Regions from separate parts of the Homo sapiens genome. Here all the other regions are linked to region 3. Evidence: fine-mapped expression QTL. A gene starts in region 3. Each other region holds a variant in brackets. All regions are shown on one strand. Distances are from middle to middle.

Region 1 (8,000 bases), 23 kb after region 3:
CCTCTCCCAACCAACGAGGTCAAAGCTAATAGGACTGAACAGCTCATTTGGTCATTCATTCATCTTTTTGTTCAGCAAACACTCAGTGCCTACCTAATGCAACTCAACACAGGACAAGGCTGGGAGAGCAGGGGGAAGATGGGGTATGGGGGGGTAGGAGGAAGAGTGACTAGGACCCTAAGATGCTGCTCCAGCTGGTGTGAGCCTATGACCTGCACTAGACAGGCAACCAGCTAACTCAACTGCAAGGACGGAGACATAGGCAGTGAGGGAAAGACTGGCAGATCAGCTAACCCTGCCTGATGGATGGGAAGGCCCCCTTGAGGGGGTGGACCCTGGGTCTTGAGGGAGGGCAGCAGGAGAAGGCATGTCAGGAGGCTGGCTCAGTCAGCTTGGGATCAGGGGCTGCAGAGCAGGTAGGGTGGAGAGGGAGGTAGGGCCAGTGCAGGATGGCTGGGCCCCCACCAGGGCTAGGTGGTAAACAGTACTGTTCCTGTCCTGGGAAGGTCGGCCATCACCGTGTTCCCCCAGCGGAGTGATGGCAAGCACGACTTCCGGGTGTGGAATGCTCAGCTCATCCGCTATGCTGGCTACCAGATGCCAGATGGCAGCATCAGAGGGGACCCTGCCAACGTGGAATTCACTCAGGTACCCGGCCCAGCCTCAGCCACCGGCCATTGGGGCGGGGAGCCCCGTGGTGAGCGAGTGACAGAGTGGAGCCCAGAGGAGACACGCAGCCCGGGCTTACAGACTCACAGGGCCCGTCTTGTTCCCCAGCTGTGCATCGACCTGGGCTGGAAGCCCAAGTACGGCCGCTTCGATGTGGTCCCCCTGGTCCTGCAGGCCAATGGCCGTGACCCTGAGCTCTTCGAAATCCCACCTGACCTTGTGCTTGAGGTGGCCATGGAACATCCCAAGTAAGTAGGCTGAGGGTGCTGGGGGCAAGGGCGAGTCAACACACAGCCCTTCTCCTTTCCTAAGTGCGGCTCCAGCCTTCCCCATACCTTCCCTAAAGCCCAGCCAGCAGCAGGTGACACTCAGGGGGCTGGCCTTCAAGGACTCTTTTGTCACTGTTGCATTCTGCAGCCATTCTGCACTGGCACCTCGGGCCTCAGACAGGTGGATGTGTTGATGCTGAGGGGAAGCAGAGGCTTAGGCGGATGGGGCCCCAGGAGCTTGAGAAGCAGTGACTGCAGGAGAGGAATGCATTGAGATTCTAGAAAGGAGCAGCCCAGGCCTCTTCTGCCCTCCTGCCAATGCTCTTAGCTGTCCCTCTCCTGTCGGGATCATATAGGGCTGCAGTGACTTCAAGAGTCCTACTGGCCCAGCCCCTGCTCTAGGCAGTTCTCATAATTGCAAAAATACCTCTGCGTATTGAGATTTACTCTGTAGCAGACATTGGGCTGGGCTCTTCTTCCTGGCCGTTGAATGAACCAAATTCAGTCCTGACTCACAGCCTTTGTACTCCCTGTTCCCTTTGCATGACATGCCTTTTCCTCAGAATTTTTCTAGGCTCATTTCTTCTTGTCAAAAGGTATTTCCTATAATGTCACCTCCTCTGAGAAGGCTCTCTGACCACTCAAGCTAGAGGAGGCCCCCTTACCCTCAGTCTAACACATCATCTTGTTTTTATTTCTTATATATTTGTTTACCCATTTATAATCTAGAGTCTAGACATTAGACTACAAGTTCCTTGAGGGTGGAGATCTTTTCTTTTCTGTTCACAATGTATACCCAACAGCTAGCAGAGTGCCTGGCACATAGTAGGTGCTCAGTTATAAATATTTGTGGAATAACTGAATATACAAGTGAATGATATTACTAGCTTTATAATAATTCCATGAATTTGATGCTATGTTTCTATTCTGATAATGGGGATGTTGAGGCTCAGAGAGGCTAAAAAACATCCCAAGTTCACACTGCTAGTCAGAGGCAGAACTTGAACCCCAGCTTCTGACACTGGAGTCCTTAATTGCTCTGTTGTGTTGCATTCTCAGCATTTAGCACAGAGCCTGGCACATACTTGAAGCTTAATATAGGTTTGCATGAATGAATGAGTGCATGAATGCATAATTTAATAAATGGCATCCTATGTGTCCAATACGTCTCTCTGGCTGGGATTAACTCAGAATCAACTCTTGGAAAGGAGTTTTCTTGTTTGACTCTTTCTGAAGCTTTTTTCTTGGTGGGCAGGTGGGGGGTCAGTGGGAGGCCAAAGGTGCAAAAGTGAAGCCCCCAGCGCCAGACAAGGTAGTTCACACCTGTAATTCCAGCACTTTGGGAGGCTGAGGCAGGAGGATTACTTGAGGCCAGTAGTTCGAGACCAGCCTGGGCAACATAGTGAGACTCTATAAAATAATAATAATAATAATAATAATAATAATAATAATAATAAGGAAAAAAATTAGCTGAGCAAGATGGCACATGCCTGCAGTCCTAGCTACTTGGGAGGCTGAGGCAGGAGGATCGCTTGGGCCCAGGAGTTAAAGGCTGCAGTGAGTTATGATTGTGCCACTGCACTGCACTCCAGCATGAGCAACAGAGCAAGACCAAGTCACTAAAAAAAAAATAATAATAAAATAAAAATAAGGAAGGCCCCAGTTAAATTGTGTCTACCTTTTTGCCAGATACGAGTGGTTTCGGGAACTGGAGCTAAAGTGGTACGCCCTGCCTGCAGTGGCCAACATGCTGCTTGAGGTGGGCGGCCTGGAGTTCCCAGGGTGCCCCTTCAATGGCTGGTACATGGGCACAGAGATCGGAGTCCGGGACTTCTGTGACGTCCAGCGCTACAACATCCTGGAGGTAACCCAGCCAGCCCAGCTGGCCAGATGAAGGTGTGGGCCTGGGGGTGGCTTCAGGGACCGACTCGCCGCTATCACTCTGCCTCTGTAGGAAGTGGGCAGGAGAATGGGCCTGGAAACGCACAAGCTGGCCTCGCTCTGGAAAGACCAGGCTGTCGTTGAGATCAACATTGCTGTGCTCCATAGTTTCCAGGTATGTCTGGAGTTTTGTGAGTCTGAAGACTTTTTGGTGAGAAGCTTAACTGATCCAGTGACTTATGTGATGCTTAATTTATAAGTAAGCCCCCTTGCTCACTCTAGAGGTCCAGCAACAGGCAGCTCCTCACCTCCCAAGACTGTTCAATCCCTGTACTTGAGCACTGAATTCTGTCCTCTCTCAATCGCTCAAGGACTTTACTCCCAAAAATTTTCCTCTTCTCTCTCTGTATCATCAATGTCTCTCTCTCTGCTGAGTCATTCCCAGCAGTGTACAGACAGGCTCTCTTAGCCCCATTTCAAAGAAAGAAATGAATAGCTAACCACATAACTCCTGCCAAACCTCAGGCTCCCTCCAGCCACTGCCTCACCCTTCTGCTCCTTTCTACAGCAAAACTATGGAGAGATCTCATTGTGCTTCCTCATCCCCCAACTGCTTCAGCCTGGCTGGGCGACAGAGCAAGACTCCGCTCAAAAAAAAAAGAAGGCCTCCCTGACCGTGCCATGTAAAATGACGCCCTCACCCCACTGCCAACCTGTCTCTCTGTGTTAGTCCTTTAACCATTTTATTTTTCTTCAAAATACTTCCTCATACAGTTCCTGGCATTATATAGGACATCGACTTTCTTCTTTCTTTTCCTTTTTTTTTTTTTGAGACATCATCTCACTCGGTCACCCAGGCTGGAATGCAGTGGCATGATCACTGCAGCCTTGACCTCCTGGGCTCAAGTGATCCTCCCACCTTAGCCTGCCGAGTAGCTGGGACTACAGGTGCATACCACGCTTGCCTAATTTTTATATTTTTAGTAGAGATGGTGTTTTTCCATGTTGCCCAGGTTGGTTCCGAACTCCTGGCCTCAAGTGATCCGCTTGCCTCAGCCTCCCAAAGCGCTGGGATTATAGGCATAAGCCACGGTGCCGGGCCAGCTTTCTTTATTGTTTGGTTTCCCCCACTAGAATGTAAGCTCCATGGGGCAGGGACCTTGTCTGTCTGTTTGCTGCTGCACCTCTGGCCTAGAAGAGTGTCTGGCACATGGTAGATGCTAAAATAATTTGTCTTTGAAGAATGAATGATGAGGGCCACATCCGCGATCTGGCCTGGCACAAACTGGGTCTTCAGTCCTTGTCTGACGTGTGCATGAATGAGTGATGCTGGGAGGGGACCTGTGAGCTGTGGCTGCTCTTGCTTGCTGTGCGAGGATAACAACCTCCACCTCCTCTTAAGCCCACACACAGCCGCTGGGCTCCTGTGTAGGGCTAAGCCCTCAGGCCCATCCGCTGCTCTTACTCATAGAAACACTTCCCTTCCCTGTGGGAAGGAGGCCTGAGATGTAGGAAGATACTACTTTAGAAGCCACAGCCATTGCCACAAAGCTGACAGATGCCCTGGAGACCCCACCACTGGTCAGTCATTCATTCATTCAGCAGTGTTTTACTCAGCATTTGCCTGGTGCTGGGCACTAGGCTGGGCCAAGGATGTGAGTGGTGAACAGAGTACAGATGAGCACACACTGTTCCCCATGACTGGGTCACCCCATAGGCAGATCAGGCCTGTGCTTGACGGGGGAGGGGAAGATGGAACAGGAAGAGCCCCCCGGTGTTT[G/C]GGGAAGGGCTGGCTTTGCACCACACATCCTGACTCCTGGGGACTCCCAGCACCAGCCCTGATGCTGGCAGGATGTGGATACGTCCCAGAAAATCTGTGAGCCTCTGCTGTCTCCTCACCGTGGCTGACTGTGTCCTTCCACTGCCTGAGCGTCTCCAGGACTTCCTCACCACCCTCCTTCAGGGTAAACTTCAAAAGATGGGCCCTTGTTTCCTCCTCTGTAAAATGGGGATAATAGTGCCTCCCTCATCTGAGGATTATAAGAGTTAAGTAAAAATGCATGCAAAATGTTTAGCTGCACTGCCTGGCCCATAGACAACACTCAGTAAGCAATGATTTTCTTACTGTTTATTATGTTGTCATCATGATCGTGGCTACCACTGAGTTTTTTTTTTTTTTTTTTTTTTCCTTTGGAGATGAACTCTCCCTCCATTGCCTAGGCTGGAGTGCATGGTGTGATCTCGGCTCACTGCAACCTCCGCCTCCTGGGTTCAAGCAATTCTCCTGCCTCAGCCTCCCAAGTAGCTGGGATTACAGGATTGCACCACCATACCCGGCTAATTTTTGTAATTTTAGTAGAGATAGGGTTTCACCATGTTGGCCAGGCTGGTCTCAAACTCCTGGCCTCAAGTGATCCACCTGTCTCTGCCTCCCAAAGTGCTGGGATTACAGGTGTGAGCCACTGCACCCATCCTGTAGCTACCACTGAGCTTAGAACTGATCTGGCTCCCAGGAGTTGCTGTGTCTTGGAAGAATAAGTGAATGAGAGCCCACGTCCACAAGAGTGGTGGCCGGACTTTTATATACACATATATAACTTATGTATGTCTATTGAATTTACAAGGCATGGCTGGCCTTCCCAGGCCTGACACCAGCTGGATCCTCTCATGCCTCCCTGCCTTGACTCATGCAGTGCCCCACTCAACTAACTTGCACCCCTCTCACAAGTCTCCCTTCCTCTCAGGAGCTGCTCCCGAAATTCGCCAACTCACCCTGGGCCTCTGTCTGGCGTTGTATCCTCTCTTCTGCCCTTCCCCAGCACCTTTGCCTGCCTCCATCAGAGTTTCTATCAGGCCGTGTGAAAATGACTGATTTTCCTTGGCTTCCCCACCCAGTTAGACTAGACTCTAATGCAGAGAAAGGGCTGTGTCTTTCCCTTCTATAACGCCGATGCCTTATGCAGTGCCTGGCAGATGGAGATTATAAGAGCAGCTAATATTTATTAAGCACTTACTATGCTTTGCTTATTCCAGCTTATTGCATCCTTTCAACAACCTCATGATGTAAGAACTTTTTTTTTGGAGACAAGGTCTTGTTTTGTCACCCAGACTGGAGTGCAGTGGCCCAATCATGGCTCACTGCAGCCTTGACCTCCTGGGCTCAAGCAATGCTCTTACCACATCAGCCTCCCACATATCTGAGAACACTGGCATGTGCCACCAAACCTGGCTAATTTTTAAATTTTTTTGTTTTTGTTTTTTTTAAGACAGAGTCTCGCTCTGTCACCCAGGCTGGAGTGCAGTGGTGCGATCTCGGCTCACTGCAACCTCCGCCTCCCGGGTTCAAGCGATTGTCCTTCTTTAGCCTTCTGAGTAGCTGGGATTACAGGTGTGTGCCTCCACCATGCCTGGCTAATTATTATATTTTTTAGTAGAGACGGGGTTTCACCATGTTGGTCAGGCTGGTCTCAAACTCCCGACCTCAGGTGATCTCCCCGTCTCGCCCTCCCAAAGTGCTGGGATTATAGGTGTAAGCCCCGACAGCTGGCCTACTAATTTTTAAATTTTTATAGAGACAGGGTCTCACCATGTTTCCTAGGCTGATTTCAAACTCCTGGGCTCAAGCAGTCCTCCCACCTCGGCCTCCCAAAGTGCTAGGATTACAGGCATGAGCCACTGCACCTGGCCATTATAGGAATTCATATCACTCCCATTTCACAGATGAGAAAACTTAAAGAACTAATTGCTCAAGGTCACATGGCAAATAAAAAGCCAGAGTTTGAACCACTGTGTTAAACAAATGTCTCTTGACTGAATGGGTTGCCACAGACATAGAGGCCAGTGGCTGCCTTGCTGGACCATTCCATGGGGTCAGACCCCACAGCCCGTAATTTCAGACTGTGAGTGATTCGTCTCCCATACACTACAGTTCTCCCAATGCTTCAGACCTCCCCACGGAGGGGTCTGGCTCCTTCTTGGCTGAGGAGGCTACAACCCCATGGAAGTGACTCTTAGAACTCTCCACCATAAATGGCTGGGATGGTATTTCCTTTACCTGCCAAAAGGTGCTGTGGTTTAAGTTATGCAGATCCAGAGAGAGCCATTTGCTGGGAGTCTGGGGAGACCTGTGGGCATGAGAGGCTGGATATTGCCCTCAAAGACTTAAGGGAGGCCCCCATGGGACCTGTGGGCTGACCCTGACTAATGTGCTTTCTTGGGCTCTGTCAGAGGCTCCACAAGCGCCTTCCATTTGGGTGTTTATTTTCAGCAGGCAAGGAGAGGGCCAGGAGTTGCTCTCCCGTGTTACAGATTGCCAGGCCTTCCCAGGCACTCTCTGGGAGCCCTGCGGCCAACCGGCCCCTCTCCTGATTCCCCCACCCTTATCTCCACTCCCTATCTTGCCTTCTGATACAGAAGCAGAATGTGACCATCATGGACCACCACTCGGCTGCAGAATCCTTCATGAAGTACATGCAGAATGAATACCGGTCCCGTGGGGGCTGCCCGGCAGACTGGATTTGGCTGGTCCCTCCCATGTCTGGGAGCATCACCCCCGTGTTTCACCAGGAGATGCTGAACTACGTCCTGTCCCCTTTCTACTACTATCAGGTTAGGGGCCTTCCTCTTCTCTCCTTCCTGGGGGCTCAGATGTGGCTGTATGTGTGTGTGTGTGTGTGCACCTCATTGTTACACATGTAGGGCACGACGGGAAGCAGGAGTATGTTGTTAGAGCTTTCCAGGCCCCACTCAAGGATGCTGAGCAGCCTTTGTGCATTTCCACGGAGAGTGGCACTGAAGGAAGTGGCTTCCACTGCACCGCTAGTGGCCTGTGGCTCAGATGGGGGGTCTGTCATTACACCTGCTTCCACGGGAGGGCCCGGCAACAGTCACTCAGCAGAGTGTTGAGGGGATTGGCCCCTGAGTCAGACGCTATTGATTCTGCCACTTCCTAGCAATAGGGTCTTGGGTGGGTCCTTTCACCTTTCTGAGCCCTGATCTTCTCATCTCTAAAAGGGATGGGCTTCACTCCACGACGGGGGGTTGTGTGGATCACAAAGCTGGTGTATGGAACAGCTCAGCCCAGTGCCCAATGCAGAATGCATTCAGTAACCATGAGCTATTGAGAAGAGTTCATTTTGTGCCAAAAAGGACTTGGGTTGGATTTTAAGAGCTTCCTTCATC
Region 2 (8,258 bases), 78 kb before region 3:
GGCTGTAAGTCTCCCTCCACACTCACCTTTGGTCTTGTGGGCCTGCTCTGGGCTAGAGCTTCTGTTGAACTGAATGCCCACCCCACCCCAAGGTGCAGGCTCCATGGGATGGGACAGGAGGGGCCTCTGCACTGCACCAAGCTTGCTTCCCAGAGTACTGGGAACTGGGGGTCAGGGCTGAGTACTGAACTTGGCTTGATGCCCTGGAAGTGATCCTGCTTGTTTTCCAGGGACAGAGGGTCTCACGGATGGCCCCGCTGCCAGGAGCAGAACTGGTTCGGAGGCCACTGCAGCTCTACCGATACTTGCTGCGCTGTTGCCAGCAGCTGCCGACCAAGGGCATCCAGCAGCATTACAAGCATGCTGTCAGGCAGGTGCGAGCTGGCTCTACCAGGTCTGGGGGCTGCCTCTAATGGCAGGCTTAGGGGCGCAGGTCAGAGGCCAAGGCCAGGGCACAGAGCTAGTCTCTGAGATGGTGGTGAGGTGGCAGTGTGGGAAGAGCCACAGGAAACCAGTGCTGGGCAGCCCAGCTCCTCTCTGTCCAGGAAACAGAGGGTGCCTCACCCAGCACACCAGCTGTGCTAGGGCATGCATGAGGCAGCTAAGTGGGTAATTAAAATAGACTGTGGGACACGACATCATTTAGGCAGGCATCCCTGCCAACAGTGCACAACTTGAATTTAATCCTGAGAAAACATCAGGTAAAACCAAATCGAGAGGCCATCTACCACATAACTAATAGGCCTGTACTCATCAAAAATGTCAGTGTCGTGAAACACAACGCTGACATTTTTGATGTTCTGGATTAGAGAACTCAAGAGATATGGTGACTAAATGTAATGTATGATCCTAGACCAGAAAAAAAATGCTGTAAAGAATATTATTGGGAACCAGGCATGGTGGCTCATGTCTGTAATCCCAGCATTTTGGGAAGCTAAGGCAGGCAGATTGAGCTCAGGAGTTCAAGACCAACCTGGGCAACATAGAAAGACCTTGTCTCTACAGAAAAATCAAACAATGAGGTGGGAGGATTGCTTGAGCCCGGAGGTCGAGGCTGCAATGAGCTGTGATTGTGCCACTGCATTCTCACCTGGGTGACAGAGTGAGACCCTGCCTCAAAAAAAAAAAATGAATATTACTGGGGCAGTGCATGAAATTGGAATATGGGCTATGGATTATAGAGTTGTATCAATGTTGAGTCTTCTGAATTTGATTACTGTGGTTATGTCAGAGAATGCCCTTGTCATTAGGAACTACACATGGGAATGTTTAGGGGTAAGGATAGCGTGTCTGCAACTTACTCTTAAATGCTTCTGAAAAAATTTATACATACTTATATAAAGAGAATGATAAAGCGAGTGTAGCAAAATGTTAACAGTCAGTGATTCTGGTAGGAAATTCTTTGTATTATTATCACAACTTTCTGTAAGTGAGAAATCATTTCCAAATAGAAAGTTAGCTAAAATTCATACACATATAATATGGAAAGTAAAAAAAAAAAAAAATCAGAGGTGGCGGTAGCCACAGAGGGCTGTGGAAACATGGAGAACGAGCAGTTAGCTGTCTGGGGGAGTCAAGGAGGGCATGCCAGAGGTGGATGCTGAGCGGGGGGCGCTCCTAAAGATGAGCAGGAGGATGTGTGGGGCTGGGAGTGACAGGGGAGGGAGGTGCCAGTTCTTTTTTTTTTTTTTTTTTTTTTTTTTTTGAGATGGAGTTTCACTCTTGTTGCCCAGGCTGGAGTGCAATGGCTTAATCTCAGCTCACCACAACCTCTGCCTCCTGGGTTCAAGCGATTCTCCTCCCTTAGCCTCCCGAGTAGCTGGGATTACAGGCATGTGCCACCACGCCCGACTAACTTTGTATTTTTAGTAGAGATGGGGTTTATCATGTTGGTCAGGCTGGTCTCCAGCTCCCGACCTGAGGTGATCTGCCCGCCTCGGCCTCCCAAAGTGCTGTGATTACAGGCATGAGCCACCATGCCTGGTGCCAGTTCTTTTTGAAAAGCAAAACCTGAATCTTAGGTTGCTTCTCAAGGATGAATATCTGGTCAAAAGCAAACAGTATCCCATGCTCTGCACTGGGCCTGGGTGGATTTCCTGAGGCCACTCTATCTACTACCTCCCCTCCCTTCCCTGTGTAGCTCTCCTAGCACTGGGCCGAGAGAAGTCCTACTTCTTCCTCCCTGCTGTAAAGCCTATGCAGAGATCTCACCCTGGGGAAAGCAGCGTCTTCTGAGGAAGAGAGATGGAAGTTTCCCCTTGGACTCTACTGCCTGATAGCCTTTGGGCCTAGCTTGATTTGGCAGTAACTTGGGGGCCAGTCTTTTTGCACCTACCTTGGTGGCAGGAGTACATGCTTTGCAGTCACATAGACTAGGATTCAAATGCTATTGTTCAGCAGCAAGTGAGCCTCTGTTTCCTCATCTCTGTGTGGGATAATCATAACAGTCTATGGAGGATGAAGAGAGCTGCTGGGTATAAAGTGCCCAGCAGTGTCCCTGGCCTGTGATTGGTGCTCTGAAGCTGCCTGTCCTGGGAATTTTGCCTAGTCATCTTTCTTTATGCTTAAACTTGCAGAGTTTTCGGGTTCATTCAGATGAAGACAACCCTGAGAGAATCCAGCAGATTATTAAAAGAGCCATTGAAGATGCTGACTGGATCATGAACAAAGTAGGTGCTTGGCCCCTGGGCTCTGCCTGCGAGCTGGGGTGATGATGGCTGTGATCCCCATGACCACTAGAGGCCACTCCTGCCCCACAGTTGAGAATGGTCCCTGTGGAGGAGGCCACCAGCCAGCTGCTTCCCTCCTCCAGAAGCTGAAAGGTGAAGACAAATCCCTTCTGGTTGCATTTATATTCTGCAAGTGGGGAGGGGCTCTCACTCTTCATCCTTAAAGGCAAATTTCTGCCCAACAGTGCTGATCGAGCTGAGAGGGGGCAGCAGGAAGAAGGAGGGAAAGCTATAGTGCCAGAGCCGGCGGTGGCACTGTGATGCCGCAGAGAGGGAAGCTGTCCTGGCGGGGGACTCCCTGTCTCTGGGGGGTATTCACACTGGGGCAGAATTATGGAGGAAACATTCAGTATGTTTTGGTGGAGGAAGGGAGTGAGTCAGGAATGTAGACTGGCGTCTTGGCCCTTAGATGCTGGTATTAGAAGGACCTAGAGAGTTGGAGTGTGACCATACCTCCCTGTCCTTCTAACTCACTCTCCAGAGTGAGTTATCACTATCCTCCCTCCCCAGCCCTGTCAGCTTCCTTTTTCACTAAAGAAGAAAGGGAGTCCAGGCATGAACTAGAGATTTGGCTGCCCAGTGCCTCCTGCTTGGGTTTCACCACCTCCAAGAAGCCCCTGCAGGAGGCAGGTGAGGTCCAGATGATGGAGGCCTGAGATTTCTCCAGAGTCCTCCTGCCCCTGTTGGCTTCCCTCCTCCACTTCGAATCTCTCTGTCTTGCAGTATAAAAAACAAAACTGAGAGCTCCGAGGGTGAGCCTTCCTGGCCTCTGGAAGTTGAGAGGCCCCTCTTCTGGAGCTCAGCAGCAGCAGCTGGTTTGGAAGA[G/T]CCATTGGCCTTGTTGGCTGAAAGCCAGAAATCAGGGGAGAAGCTGACCTTGCTCCAGAGGCTCCTCTTGCCGCGGCCATGTTGCTAGCATCCTTTATGTTTGCACTTCCAGCCACTTACGATGTGAAATTTGGGGAGAATGTAGTATTTTTTTGCTTCTTTTGTGTGTTTTTTATTTTTGTGTTTTTGTTCTTTTACTTTTCTCTGAAAGTGATTCATTTATTCTGGAGATCTCTTTATCATTCTCTGAGTCCCAGAGCAGATGTCCCCTCAGGTAGCAACCTGTACAGAAGAAAGCACGTGGGTTTTAGAACCAGACAGATCTGGATTTGAATCCCAGATGCAATAAGATGAAGGTGAAGTGCCTCACACAGGATGTGGCACATGACAGTGCCTGAAGGGCTCCCTTCAAGGAAGCCGTCCTGCCCCGCCCCCTCCTCTGCTCCTGCAGCGCCCTGCACAGCTCTGCTCCCCGCATGCACCGCATCGGGTCTCAGTTTTTTGTTTGCGAGCTTGCCCTGTCCCTGCTTGTAGCCCCTGAGCCCTCACAGTTGTCACACACCCAGCAGTCTGCCAAGGAGCTGCTTTTCCTGACTACTGTCTCTCCATGCCTAGGGAAGTCAAAGCCCTGGGCCTTGCCTTCAGGGAGTTGACAGTGTCCTTGAAGTGGTGAAGTGCCCACCACATGAACCAAGGAGAGACGCCAAAGCAGCTGCCATGGACTCTGGCCTGTCCAAGCCTCTGTGCACCTGCAGTCTCTTTCCACTGGCACTTCCCTGCTTTGCTACCATCGTGGAAGAATGGAAGGGAGGGGGAGAAGGTGGGTGGGCTCAGGGAGAACGGCCAGAGTGGCCAGAAGATGCAGAGAGAAGCCCCACTGGGATCTGAGTATTCCCCAAGGGCACTCAGCCACAGGGATGAACTAGTGTTTGTTTGTATCCTTGCAGTTATGTGACTTAAAGTGACTCAGAGATATCTATGTATGCGAGTGTACTCCGCTGGCAATGAAGTAAATATATCAATTTGTGGAAGCTCGTGTGTCTTCTCAACTGATAAACCATACGTTCCCTAAGCATACGTTGTCTCCTTCCTGAGTGTCATCTACTGTTGAGAACCTAGAGTCAAGTCAGACAAAGCTGCCCAGGAGGGGTCATTCTTCAGAGAAGGTGACTGGGATTGGCCCCACTGCTAGACAACAGTTGATGAGGTCAGATCTGCCCCACCAGGGTATGGGCAAGCTGAGGGGTTTCAGGCTAGGGCCAAAGCTGAGCCAGGCCCCTGTCTGCACCCCTGCCGTTGAGCTGGGGGCCCCTCCTCAGGTGGCAGGGCTGTATTGTGATCATAGGAGTGGGGGCAGCTGTATCCCAGATGTTTCCCCAACAGGAGAGAAATGATTGAAGGCTGACAAGGGTTCAGGATAGAGTTAGTGTCGTTTGCTCTTGACCAGCTCCTGGAGTGGTTCTATGACCTTTAGTTCCTAGGTAGGTGCTTGGTCCAGCTGTGCTGACTTGCCACATGTCAGACAGTGGTTGCCTAGCTCCAGCATGTGGCTGGCCTGTGAGGGAGCCAGCAAGGGGTGGGGTGGGTGAACAGTGTGTTGGCTGCTCTCCCCCAGCCCCTGTGCTGCCACAGAGGGTAGTGAGCCCGGTCATGCAGGGGCCCACGGTAGGGGAGGCAGGATGCACACAGCACTGTGCACACAGGGGCACTGTTGAAGCCTGGGAGAGCCTCCCATCCTCAGCAGCAGCCTTGCCTTCCACCCTGCCCTCTGACTTCCACTACTCCAAGCCCTGCGTGGACCATGCGTATGGGTCCTTCATTTCTCCTCTCAATTCTCAAATGCATAGAGTTGAAGGTTTACAGAGTAGCCTCCAAGCAAATGGAAGAAGGAGATGAAGGTCTCACCCAGAGTCAGCCAGTGTGGCCTGCTGGAGGGGGCTCTGGAGATACAGACACCTGAATTTGAATCCCAGTCTGTCACTTAGTGGTGGTGTGATTTGGGGCAGATTTGTTAACCTGTCAGGCTCACTTTTCTCACTGCTACAGGTTGCACATCCCATGGGCTGGTGAGATTACGGCAGTGCACACAGATGGGCTGTCAGCCATGTGGCCTCCATCTCTTGTCTTTGGTTTACCTGGTGATGACACTTCTCTCCTTTTTCTTTTCCTTTTTTTTTTTTTTTTTTTTTGAGATGGAGTTTTACTCTGTTGCCCAGGCTGGAGTGCAGTGGCACAATCTCAGCTCACCGCAACCTCCGCCTGCCGGGTTCAAGTGATTCTCCTGCCTCAGCCTCCTGAGAAGCTGGGATTACAGACACATGCCACCACACCCAGCTGATTTTTGTATTTTTAGTAGAGTCGGGGTTTCACCATGTTGGCCAGGCTGGACTGGAACTCCTGACCTCAAGTGATCTGCCCGCCTTGGCCTCCCAAAGGGCTGGGATTACAGGTGTGAGCCACCGCGCCCAGCTGATGCTTCTCTTTAGGTGGGTCCTTGCGGCTCTCCCTGGTGTCCACTGTACAAGCAAAATGTCAGCAGGAAAGGATTTGACACGTGTTGCCCACACTTAGATACTCCTTTGGACTCACATTGCCTTTCTGGGGTGCATTTGCATTATAAAGTTTCTGGGTTTATCTGTGTAGCAAAAGACAGATGTTAAAACCCTCAAGGGCCTTCTTTGCAAGACCCTGCATATCTGAGGCTGACTCCTGGGGCAGTGCTAGCCTTGAGTCCTACACCAGCACATGCTTCCTGGGGCAGAGCCTGTCCCGCCCTACGCAGTTCCATTTCTCGCCCCTGTGCCCACCCCATCTTCATTGACCATTTACTGCACAGTCTTCCCTCCACGCAGGAAGGGACTCACAGTCTAAGGGAAAGACAGACGTGGGTTGCCTGGAGGTTGAGCAACTGTGGCTCGTAGGATGTGATCATAACATAGATTTATCTTTTTCTCTCACAATTCCTTTGTATTTTTTTTTTCTGGAGGTTCCTGTTCTCCCTGTCCCTGGATGAAAACTGAGACAAAGCCTCAAAAATTTCTGGCTGGACTTAAATTTTAAAAACCCAAAGCTATGGCTACTTTGAAGTCACAAAACAGTTTCAATGCATGAAGTGAAATGTCCAGTCTCAGGAAAATAAAATTTCAAAACTTGAATTAAGGTTCAGGCATCTCCCTTTTTCCAGTTGGGATCTGCTGCAGAGAGGAAACCTCTGTCAGAGAAGGGGACAGAGGCATCTTTGCTAGCTTGGGGGAGGGGCATTTCAGGCCAAGGAGCACCACTTGTTCAGGGACTCGCATGCTGCTTGGTGTGGTTGAGACATCATGGTGGGTGGAGAAAATAGGGGTGGAGGTGGAGGGGATGAGGCTTGAATACACCACGGGAACCAAATCGTGCAGAGCCCTGCAGGCCTTGCTAAGGAGTTTGGACCTTCTCCAAAGGGGCGATTTTGTAATCAACTCTTTATGTAGTTGTCTCCTCCACCAAAGAGTGAAGCCGTTGAAGCCAGGAACCAGGTATTAGTCGTTGCAGAACCCTCCAGGCCAGTTGTGTGTCTGCTGCCCAGGCTGTGAGCTCTTAAGTGCTGGCTGAATGGAAAGAATGATGATCGCAGGCAAACTGTGATGTCTGTCTTTCATTTGTTTGTTTCTCACTGCTTTCTAGTAATGAGAAAGGCTGGGAGATGGTGAGTATTTCTTGGCTAAGTCTTACCGCCGATGGTTGGGAGCTGCTTTGGAGGAGGGAACACTTGCCCTCACTGCACAGTTGGCAGGCACTTCCTCCAGGAAGTTTGTCTTGATGCAGAGAGAGGATTTCCCCCAAAGTAAAAGTTACCAAGTGCTGAAATCCAACCTTCCTCCCATCCTCTTGAAATGAACCTGTCCATTTTGCCTCCCTAGTGGGTGGGGATTAACTTGAGCATCCAAATCAAACAAAACAGGCACCCTTTGTGCGATGATGGGGAACCATAGCTGTGGCCGATTTGCCCTGAGGGAGTAAACTTGTTAACTTGGGGTGGGTGACTGAAGTTCGAGATGCTGAGAGGCTTTAGAACAGTGCCTTACAGGGTGAAGAGCACCGTGTGGAGCAGGCAGGCACAAGGTCACCCCAGAAAGGCACATGGTTTCAACAACGAATCAGAAGCAGGGTACAGGGTTGGAGCTGGTTAAAGGAATCTGCTAATGAACTGCTCAGAGGCTGCAAGATTGCTTTTGAGCCTCTCCGAAGAAATGAAAAAATGTTTTTCAGTGGAACAGCTTCAAATATTTCCTTTAAAGATCTGGTGAGCAGGCCTGGCGCGGTGGCCTGTAATCCCACCCAGCACTTTGGGAGGCCAAGGTGGGCGGATCACAAGGTCAGGAGATCGAGACCATACTGGCTAACACAGTGAAACCCCGTCTCTACTAAAAATACAGAAAAATTTAGCCGGGCATGGTGGTGGGTGCCTGAGTCCCAGCTACTTGGGAGGCTGAGGCAGGAGAATGGCGTGAACCCGGGAGGCGGAGCTTGCAGTGAGCCGAGATTGCGCCACTGCACTCCAGCCTGGATGACAAAGCGAGACTCCGTCTCAAAAAAAAAATCTGGTGAGCAAAGGAGGAGGAACACTTACTAGCGTCTACTGCATCCCTGGACTGAGCAGATGATGAGGACACGAAGGAAGAATCAGTCCATAGACAGTGAGCTCCACAGGAAGGACTTGGTTTA
Region 3 (8,250 bases):
CAAAGTTGCTAACTTCCGAGGGCTAACTGGATCTGAACCATCTTCACAGCCTGGCATAGAAACAGATCAAATCAATCCAGTGGAAAATCAATTCCAGGATAATGAGCCCAAGACATTCCCGTGCTGATTGCTGTCAGCATGGTGCCTAGGACAGCCTGGGAAGGCAGGGAGGAGGGCATTTCTCCACAGCAGCCTCGGAACCTCTATCGCCACCCTCCGGGGGGCCCACCTGTCCCCCGCCTGCCCTTCAAGGTGCTCTTTGATTTCTCCCCAGCAGAATTCACCTGCTGCATCCATCATCAGAAGAGGCCAGGAATGCGGCCTGCTGGGTGGGCAGGGCCAAGAAGAAGGCAGCCGTGCAGGCCCAGGAAGCCGTAGGAGACTTGCCAACCTCCAGGAGGGGGCCAGCCCTGGACCCTGCAGACAGGCGCTCTGGGGAGGGTACCAGAAGCTCACTGTTTGTCCCGGCTTGAAGGCTGTTTGCTGTGTGACCTTGGTGAGTCTCCTAACCTCTGTGTATCATCACAATCATTATCACTATTTTTACTCTCCTCCTCTTCCTATTTGCCGGTTAAGAGAGGATTGGGATAGTGGTCATGGTTATACAACATTGTGAATATTCTAAAAACCATTGCATTTTACACTTTAAAATAGTTAATTGGTAATTTTATGTTATGTGAAATTTATTCCAATTAAAAATTAAAAATACATACATGAATTTAATGTTACAAAGGGAGAGAGAGGACCGGGAATTTAAAAGCAGGTGTTTGTGGTGGGACGGGGACCTGTCTGAGGAAGGATACTTCAGAAGGCAAGTCCTGGCATCCACTTGCTCTTTGTCAAAAGGGAAATTGTTACTCTCTGACTCCCAGCAAGGATAATAAATTCTTACTTGGCTGACTTTTTGCTCAATGGCTCAAAGCATTTTCTTGTATCTCGTTTATTTACTTTTATTTTTATCACCTTTTGTCACGAGAAAAGTCAGGCCCAGAGAGAAGTGGCTTTTCCAAGATCACATGGTAGGTCAGCAGTGAAGCTGTGCCTCGAACCTGGGACCTTTCAGGCTAAAGGAAACCAGAACATGCCACGCCCAGATATGCCGATATGGCATCCTGATTATCTCCAGCTGAAGGCATTTGAGAAAGAGCAGCTAGAGAGAGGGCTATCTGAACTGCCCTGTCCTGCCTGCAGCAAGCCATAAACATTCCTTGGAGAAAGATGCTTTCCCAGCATCAAGATGAGAAGATAACTTTTATCAGCTCAGAGATGGCACCAGAGCCATCTACAAATACAAACAAACCTTGCTATCCTACTCCTTAGCTCACTTCCACATGTTTACCTTCTCACAGCTTGCCACCCCTGGAAGCCTACAACTGCATTCGTCTTGTCACCTTTCTCTTCTTTCTTTCTTTCTCTCTTTCCTTTCCTTTCTTTTCCTTTCCTTTCCTTTCCTTTCCTTTCCTTTCCTTTCCTTTCCTTTCCTTTCCTTTCCTTTCCTCCTTTCCCTCTTTTTTTTCCTTTTTTTTCTGAGACAGGCTAGGGTGCAGTGGCGCGACCATAGCTCTCTGCAGCCTCTAACTCCCAGACTCAATTGATCCTCCCACCTGATCCTCCTGAGTAGCTAGGACTACAGTAGCTGGGCATGCCACCATACCCAGCTAATTTATTTTCAATTTTTCTGTAGAGATTGGATCTCACTATGTTGCCCAGGCTGGTCTCGAACTCCTGGCCTCAAGCAATCTGCCCACCTCAGCCTCCCAAATTGCTGGGATTCCAGGCATGAACCACCGTGCCCAGCCATCTTGTCACTTTCTAAAATGCATTGCTCTTCATGGCAGATGCTCCATAAGCCAGAGTTCTAAGCCGCAGCATTGAGTTACTTTCACTGAGGCTTCTCCTGCGTGGTGTGCATCACAGACATTAACAAACTTGCTTTTTTTTCTCTATTATTAATCTGTCTTTTGTTACAGTGTCTTTCCCAACAAATAACTTAAGATGATTGAGGAGAAATTATATTTCCTTCCCAGCTGGCTAATTCCAAATGTGTCCTCAAGCCTGGTGCTTGGACTCAAACCCTGCCACAGGTCAAGAATGCCACACCAAGCAGACGCTGTGTTAGAGGGGCACCTGAGGTGACATGTTTGACAGATCACATAACTGAATAACTGCATTTTCTGAAGGAAAATCAACGAAGTGCTTTGAGGCCAAGTAGATGGGATTCTTGAGGATTCCATGAATAGCAAATAGTAGTATCCCCCTCAGAGGCTCTTGGGTGGGGGCATTAAATGTGTTAATACATGTGTTTGCTGCAGGTATAGCCAGAATATGTGAAAGCAGCTACAGGGAATAGAGTGTAGCAAACTCCTAATCATCCCTCAAAACCCTGCCCTGGTGTCCTCTCCCTTGTAAACTTTCCTTGAACAAGGCAGAACCAGCTACATCAGCACCATACCATCCCTCCATCACTACAGATATCACTCTGTACTATAATTATCCATTTATTTTTCTAGGCCTTGCACTCCCTAAGGCCAGGATTCTGACTCTTTCCCTGAGTGCTGTTTACCTGAACTGAACCGGCATGAACCACCACGCCCGGCCATCTTGTCACTTTCTAAAATGCATTGCTCTTCGTGGCAGATGCTCCATAAGCCAGAGCTCTAAGCCGCAGCATTGAGCCGCAGCATTGAGCTGAAGCCTGAAGGGAAGATGGCTTTGATATGTTAAAACTCATTCCAGTTTACTCCTATTTTTCATTCATTCATCCACACATTCACTCAACAAAGATCCTTGAGCTCTGATATCCATGTCTTTTTTGTGGCTCTTAGTTTATCTTTGACAAAGTTAATATATTATGCTGAATTTAACTTGGGAAAGACAAGAAGGAAATGAGTGGACAGTGGTAGCAAAGTGTTGGGACGGTGAGATCAAGGGTGACTTTTTTTCCCTTTGCTTCTCAACTTCTCCCTAATGTAGTTGTTATTTTACTTTTATGATGGAAAAATGCATATGTATGGGAATACTGTATTTCAGGCATTATAAGGAATGAAATTATAGGCCGGGCATGGTGGCTAACCCTTGTAATCCTAGCACTTTGAGAGGCTGAAGTGGGCAGATCACTTGAGCTTCAGAGTTCGAGACCAGCATGGACAACATGGTGAAACCCAGTCTCTACCAAAAACACAAAAATATTAGCTGGGTGTGGTGGTGCATGCCTGTAGTCCCAGCTACTCAGGAGGCTGAGGTGGGAGGATCGCTTGAGCCTGGGAGGCAGAAGTTGCAATGAGCAGAGATCGTGCCACTCCGCTCCAGTCTTGGTGACAGAATGAGACTCCATCTCAAAAATAAATAAATAAATAAAATAAATGAAATGAAATTATAAGAAATTACCACTTTTTCATGTAAGAAGTGATCATTTCCATTATAAGGGAAGGAATTTAATCCTACCTGCCATTCCACCAAAGCTTACCTAGTGCTAAAGGATGAGGTGTTAGTAAGACCAACATCTCAGAGGCCTCTCTGTGCCAATAGCCTTCCTTCCTTTCCCTTCCAAAAACCTCAAGTGACTAGTTCAGAGGCCTGTCTGGAATAATGGCATCATCTAATATCACTGGCCTTCTGGAACCTGGGCATTTTCCAGTGTGTTCCATACTGTCAATATTCCCCCAGCTTCCTGGACTCCTGTCACAAGCTGGAAAAGTGAGAGGATGGACAGGGATTAACCAGAGAGCTCCCTGCTGAGGAAAAAATCTCCCAGATGCTGAAAGTGAGGCCATGTGGCTTGGCCAAATAAAACCTGGCTCCGTGGTGCCTCTATCTTAGCAGCCACCCTGCTGATGAACTGCCACCTTGGACTTGGGACCAGAAAGAGGTGGGTTGGGTGAAGAGGCACCACACAGAGTGATGTAACAGCAAGATCAGGTCACCCACAGGCCCTGGCAGTCACAGTCATAAATTAGCTAACTGTACACAAGCTGGGGACACTCCCTTTGGAAACCAAAAAAAAAAAAAAAAAAAAGAGACCTTTATGCAAAAACAACTCTCTGGATGGCATGGGGTGAGTATAAATACTTCTTGGCTGCCAGTGTGTTCATAACTTTGTAGCGAGTCGAAAACTGAGGCTCCGGCCGCAGAGAACTCAGCCTCATTCCTGCTTTAAAATCTCTCGGCCACCTTTGATGAGGGGACTGGGCAGTTCTAGACAGTCCCGAAGTTCTCAAGGCACAGGTCTCTTCCTGGTTTGACTGTCCTTACCCCGGGGAGGCAGTGCAGCCAGCTGCAAGGTGAGTTGCCTTCATTTCTGGGGAAGCGGCTGTTTTGAGAGGGTTTTGTTTCTTCCTCTTTGAGAAGGCTCAGAAAATTGTGGGAATTTTCTGCCTACAGAGAGAAGGTGTTGGAAAGTCTAGGTAAAAAAATGCCGACATGAGGTTTGGTCATTTGAACATGGCATCTTGGTCAGATTTCTTTTCTGCAAATATTAGCTGTGGTTGTTACATGACAAGGAAAAACTTTCTGAAAAGTTCAAAATGGGAGTTTGTATCTGCTAAGAATTTTTTTTAACAGAGATTATCTTATCAGTCCTTATAACATGTAACCTCCCCACAAATCCTGGTAAGATGGATATATTAAACCCATTTTATGGATGAATAAATGAGTTTCAGTTAAATAACTTGATCCAGGACACATAACTGGTAGAGCTAGGATTCCAGGATTTGAACCCAGGTCTATGGGGCTATAAGTTCTTTTCTTTCTTTCCCTCTTTCCTTCCTTTCCTTCCTGTCCTTTCCTCCCTTCCCCTCCCTTCCCTTCCCTTTCTTTCTTTTTTTTTTTTGGAAACAGCCTTGACTGCCCAGCCTCAAGCAATCCTTCTGCCTCAGCCTCCCGAGTAGCTGGGACTACAGGCACAAGACACCATGCCTGCCTGGCTAATTTTTCAATTTTTTGTAGTCAAGGTCTCCCTATGTTGCCCAGGCTGAACTCGAACTCTTGGACTCAAGCGATCCTCCTGCCTCGGTCTCCCGAAATGCTGGGATTACAGGCGTGAGCCACTGCACTTGGCCTAAAATTCTTACATGGACTATATTCACTACACTGTCTTCTAAAGACAGAGTTTTTGCCTCTTTGATCTTCCTCTTGTCTGTTTCAAAGGAGATGATCTCAGATTTCGAGGGATGAGTGCATTTTTCACAAATATTTCCTCCCCACATAATAAAAGAGGAGCAAGTAATAATGCTGAGTTAGAACAACAACTGCAAAATCTTTAAAAGAAAGGTAGCTACAGCTTGAGTGCTTTCCCCAGTAATAGACCTAAAACTACAGTTGATAATGAGAGCTGCTGGGAAGTGTCTTTCAGGGTCAGGCAAAGGCACCCCTGTTTCAACGACCTCCGGGCTCTTCCTCACCCTGCCTGTGGCCAGTGATGAAGCCTGGCTGGGTCTGGTGGGCCAGCAGGTCCCGCTAAGGAGGCTCATGGTGCATACAGTTTGTCCTTGTTAAGTGGCGATGGGGATGGGGGGGTTCATTGTTTTTCCTTAAGATTATTAGGTGGCTTTACAGAATTGAAGTCTGTGTCCGAAGGCTCCCCATTCCAACCCCGAAATAGAGACAGAGGTTGCAAAGCATTGATGAAGGGGCTCATGCTGGCGTTCATATCGATTCCCCAGTGAGCCAACCCCACTGAGAAGCCCTGTTCTGTAAACTCTTCTTCAACCTTCCCTCACCTCTGCTTCCCTTCTTCAGCCCCACAGTGAAGAACATCTGAGCTCAAATCCAGATAAGTGACATAAGTGACCTGCTTTGTAAAGCCATAGAGATGGCCTGTCCTTGGAAATTTCTGTTCAAGACCAAATTCCACCAGTATGCAATGAATGGGGAAAAAGACATCAACAACAATGTGGAGAAAGCCCCCTGTGCCACCTCCAGGTGAGTTTTCCCTGGGGGAACCTCCTGCTTGTCTCCTTGGGCACCCATGCCCTGTCGGCACCGATGACTCAGAATTCCTCTCTCTGCTCCTCCTCTCTCACCTGAGGTCTGATCTCCTCATTGCTTCTTGAAAGTCCCTGTTGGAATTCAATGCAGCCGCTGATTATTGGGCACCTCGCTGTGCCTGACGGTATGTGAAGAAGGAAGGGACATGGTGCGGGGCTGGCCCTGAAGAAGCTTGGAATCTTTGGGGAAGAATATGGGAAGGAGCTTGGCCTGAGAATGGGAGGCAGTAGAGCCTCGTGGTGGGCACCATGGCGGAGGGGTGGGGGTGGAGGGTCAGCATCCTGGCCTGCGTCCATTCCAATTCACCGCTTGCTAGATGCTTTGAATATCATCCTGGTGAAGGGCATCAGGATGTTAGACAAACTAGTTCCAAGCCCTGTGCTGGCCGCACTAGTTGCCGGGTGCTGCCTCTAGCCAGCTGTGTGACGCAGGGTAAGTTAACCTCTCTGAAACTTAGTGCTCACCTGTGGTATGAGGAACCCAAGGGGGCCCTCACCATAGTGTGCTGAGGATGAAATGAGATCTACAGCACTCAGCACTGTGCCCACACAGAACAGACACTTAGTCCACATCAGGGTTCATCACCATCTACTGAGTACCTGCCCTTGCCAGAGCTACACAGGCCACTTGACAGACTTTGCATCTCAACTGATCTCTGTGGCGGCTCTTTGAAGTTCATATGATTGACTCATTTCACAGATAAGGAAATAGAAGCTCTAATAGGATTATGACTTCCCCCAGCCTGAATGACCGGTAATTACAGAGTTTACAGAGTTGGAACTTGAGCCCAGATTTGGATTCTTCATGTCCCTCCTCCCCGGGCCCATCCTTCCTCCCAGGGCAGAACCAAGAGAATGAGTCAGTTAATGAACAAGTCAAGGGACAGGCTTGAGGCTCGCTCAGGTGGAAAGACAAAGCAATCTGCAATAACGCAATAGTGCAACTGAAACCAAAGCCCCCATCTACACAAGACCACCACATAGCCACACAACCCCACCGCCCCAGAGGAGCCTTTCCCATGGACTACAAAGGGTAGGGCGCCCCCTGGATGTGTACAGCATGACGGCCCTGAGTGTATCTGTCAGAGGCGGCAAAAAATGCCAGTGGCTAAGAGGATGGGCTTGGGGATGAGCAAGTGGCTTTGCCACTCAGTAGCCCTGTAACCTTTGGCAAGTCCCCTAGCCTCTGAGCCTCAATTTCCTCCTCTATAAGAAGAGGGTAACAATGGTGATTTCCTGGAGTTGGAGGAAGGAGTAAATGAGCTTTCCCATGTGAGCAACTTAGCACAGGGCCTGGCCTGGAGTAAGTGCTCAGCAAATGGCACTGTTGGCATTGCTATCATTAGCGGTGGTGTTGGCAGTTAGGAGGTGATGGAGCAAAATTGAACAGAGTTCCCTCTAGGGGCTTCACAGAAGTCAGGTGGACTCTGTGGCCTTTGAAGTATGGGTAGAATGTAGACAGGTGCAGAGGAGTAGCAAGGACATTCAGGAAGAGGGGAGAGGTGAGCAGAGGCTCAGAGGCAGAAATGAGCCTGACTGTGCTTGGCCAGGAGTGGGCTGGGGGCTGGGATAGGCAAAGCCAGGCCAGAGCACAAGGGCTTGAATGCAGGGTAGGAGATTTGGACTCGCTCTCCCTGGCAGTAGGGAGCCATTGTAGGTTCTTGAGCAGGACAGTCTAGCTGTGGTGTGGTAGGTGAATTGGAGGAGAGGACTTTGAAACCAGGCAGTCTGGGCTATGGCAACTGAGGTGGCTAAGAGACCAAGAGGTGAGAACACAGAGTTGATGGCCTCTAGATGTCCAGATTCTAAGGGCTGTAGAGGGGCAGTGGCTTCGCCCCTTCCTTCTCTTCATCTCATCATTGCAGCCGCTGCCAGCTGACCTCCCTGACTCCAGCTCCCCACACTGGCTCTGAGCTCTCTCTTGCCAACTGGACTTCTAGCAAGTCACGCCCCTATTCTAGAGCCTGCAGTGGCTCCCCATTGCCTGTCACCACATTAAAGCTTCCACAGAGTTCTGAGCGAGCACCCTACCCAAATGGAGAGCCCATCCCACCTGCCCATCCCAGCCTTCCTCAGCTCCCCAGTGCCTGTGCATAGCACATTCCTCCCTCAGCTCATCCAGACCCAACTCATCCCCTATTTTTTTCTTTTCTATTTTTATTTTTTATTATTATTATTTTTAGACAGGGTCTCACTCTGTTGCCCAGACTTCAGTGTAGTGGCTCCATTTCAGCTCACTGCACTGCAACCTCCACCTGCCAGGTTC

Which allele goes with the higher level. Positions count from the first base shown, and alleles are read on the strand shown. Sizes are in standard deviations (SD) of each study's normalised expression. Not every link is listed here.
With allele G in place of T in region 2, the expression in tibial nerve of the gene that starts at base 4,090 in region 3 is higher (large effect, 1.1 SD a copy in GTEx).

The links.
Region 1: its variant is fine-mapped to the expression of NOS2 in lung (TOPMed, PIP above 0.99).
Region 2: its variant is fine-mapped to the expression of NOS2 in tibial nerve (GTEx, PIP above 0.99). The same link has a PIP of 0.9 or more in T cells, blood mononuclear cells, breast, caudate, cerebellar hemisphere and cerebellum.

Annotation. Positions count from the first base shown.
Region 1 is chr17:27,773,684-27,781,683 of GRCh38, reverse strand. It overlaps NOS2 (nitric oxide synthase 2), which reads left to right. Exons shown (of 27, transcript NM_000625.4): 8 at 507-648; 9 at 778-917; 10 at 2,628-2,802; 11 at 2,893-2,994; 12 at 7,233-7,427. Among named protein-coding and RNA genes, the nearest start is that of NOS2, 23 kb to the left of the region's middle. The variant G/C (reference allele first, on the strand shown) is at 4,600.
Region 2 is chr17:27,874,685-27,882,942 of GRCh38, reverse strand. LYRM9 (LYR motif containing 9) reads left to right here. Exons shown (of 4, transcript NM_001076680.3): 2 at 231-374; 3 at 2,577-2,669; 4 at 3,453-4,585. The coding sequence starts at 249. The coding sequence ends at 3,470. Among named protein-coding and RNA genes, the nearest start is that of LYRM9, 15 kb to the left of the region's middle. RefSeq lists an enhancer at 288-978. The variant G/T (reference allele first, on the strand shown) is at 3,555.
Region 3 is chr17:27,796,369-27,804,618 of GRCh38, reverse strand. NOS2 (nitric oxide synthase 2) reads left to right here and starts at 4,090. Exons shown (of 27, transcript NM_000625.4): 1 at 4,090-4,280; 2 at 5,737-5,919. The coding sequence starts at 5,810. RefSeq lists cis regulatory regions at 593-732, 1,391-1,526, 3,553-3,575, an enhancer at 3,888-3,916 and promoters at 1-4,126, 3,885-4,177, 3,060-4,177, 1-4,257.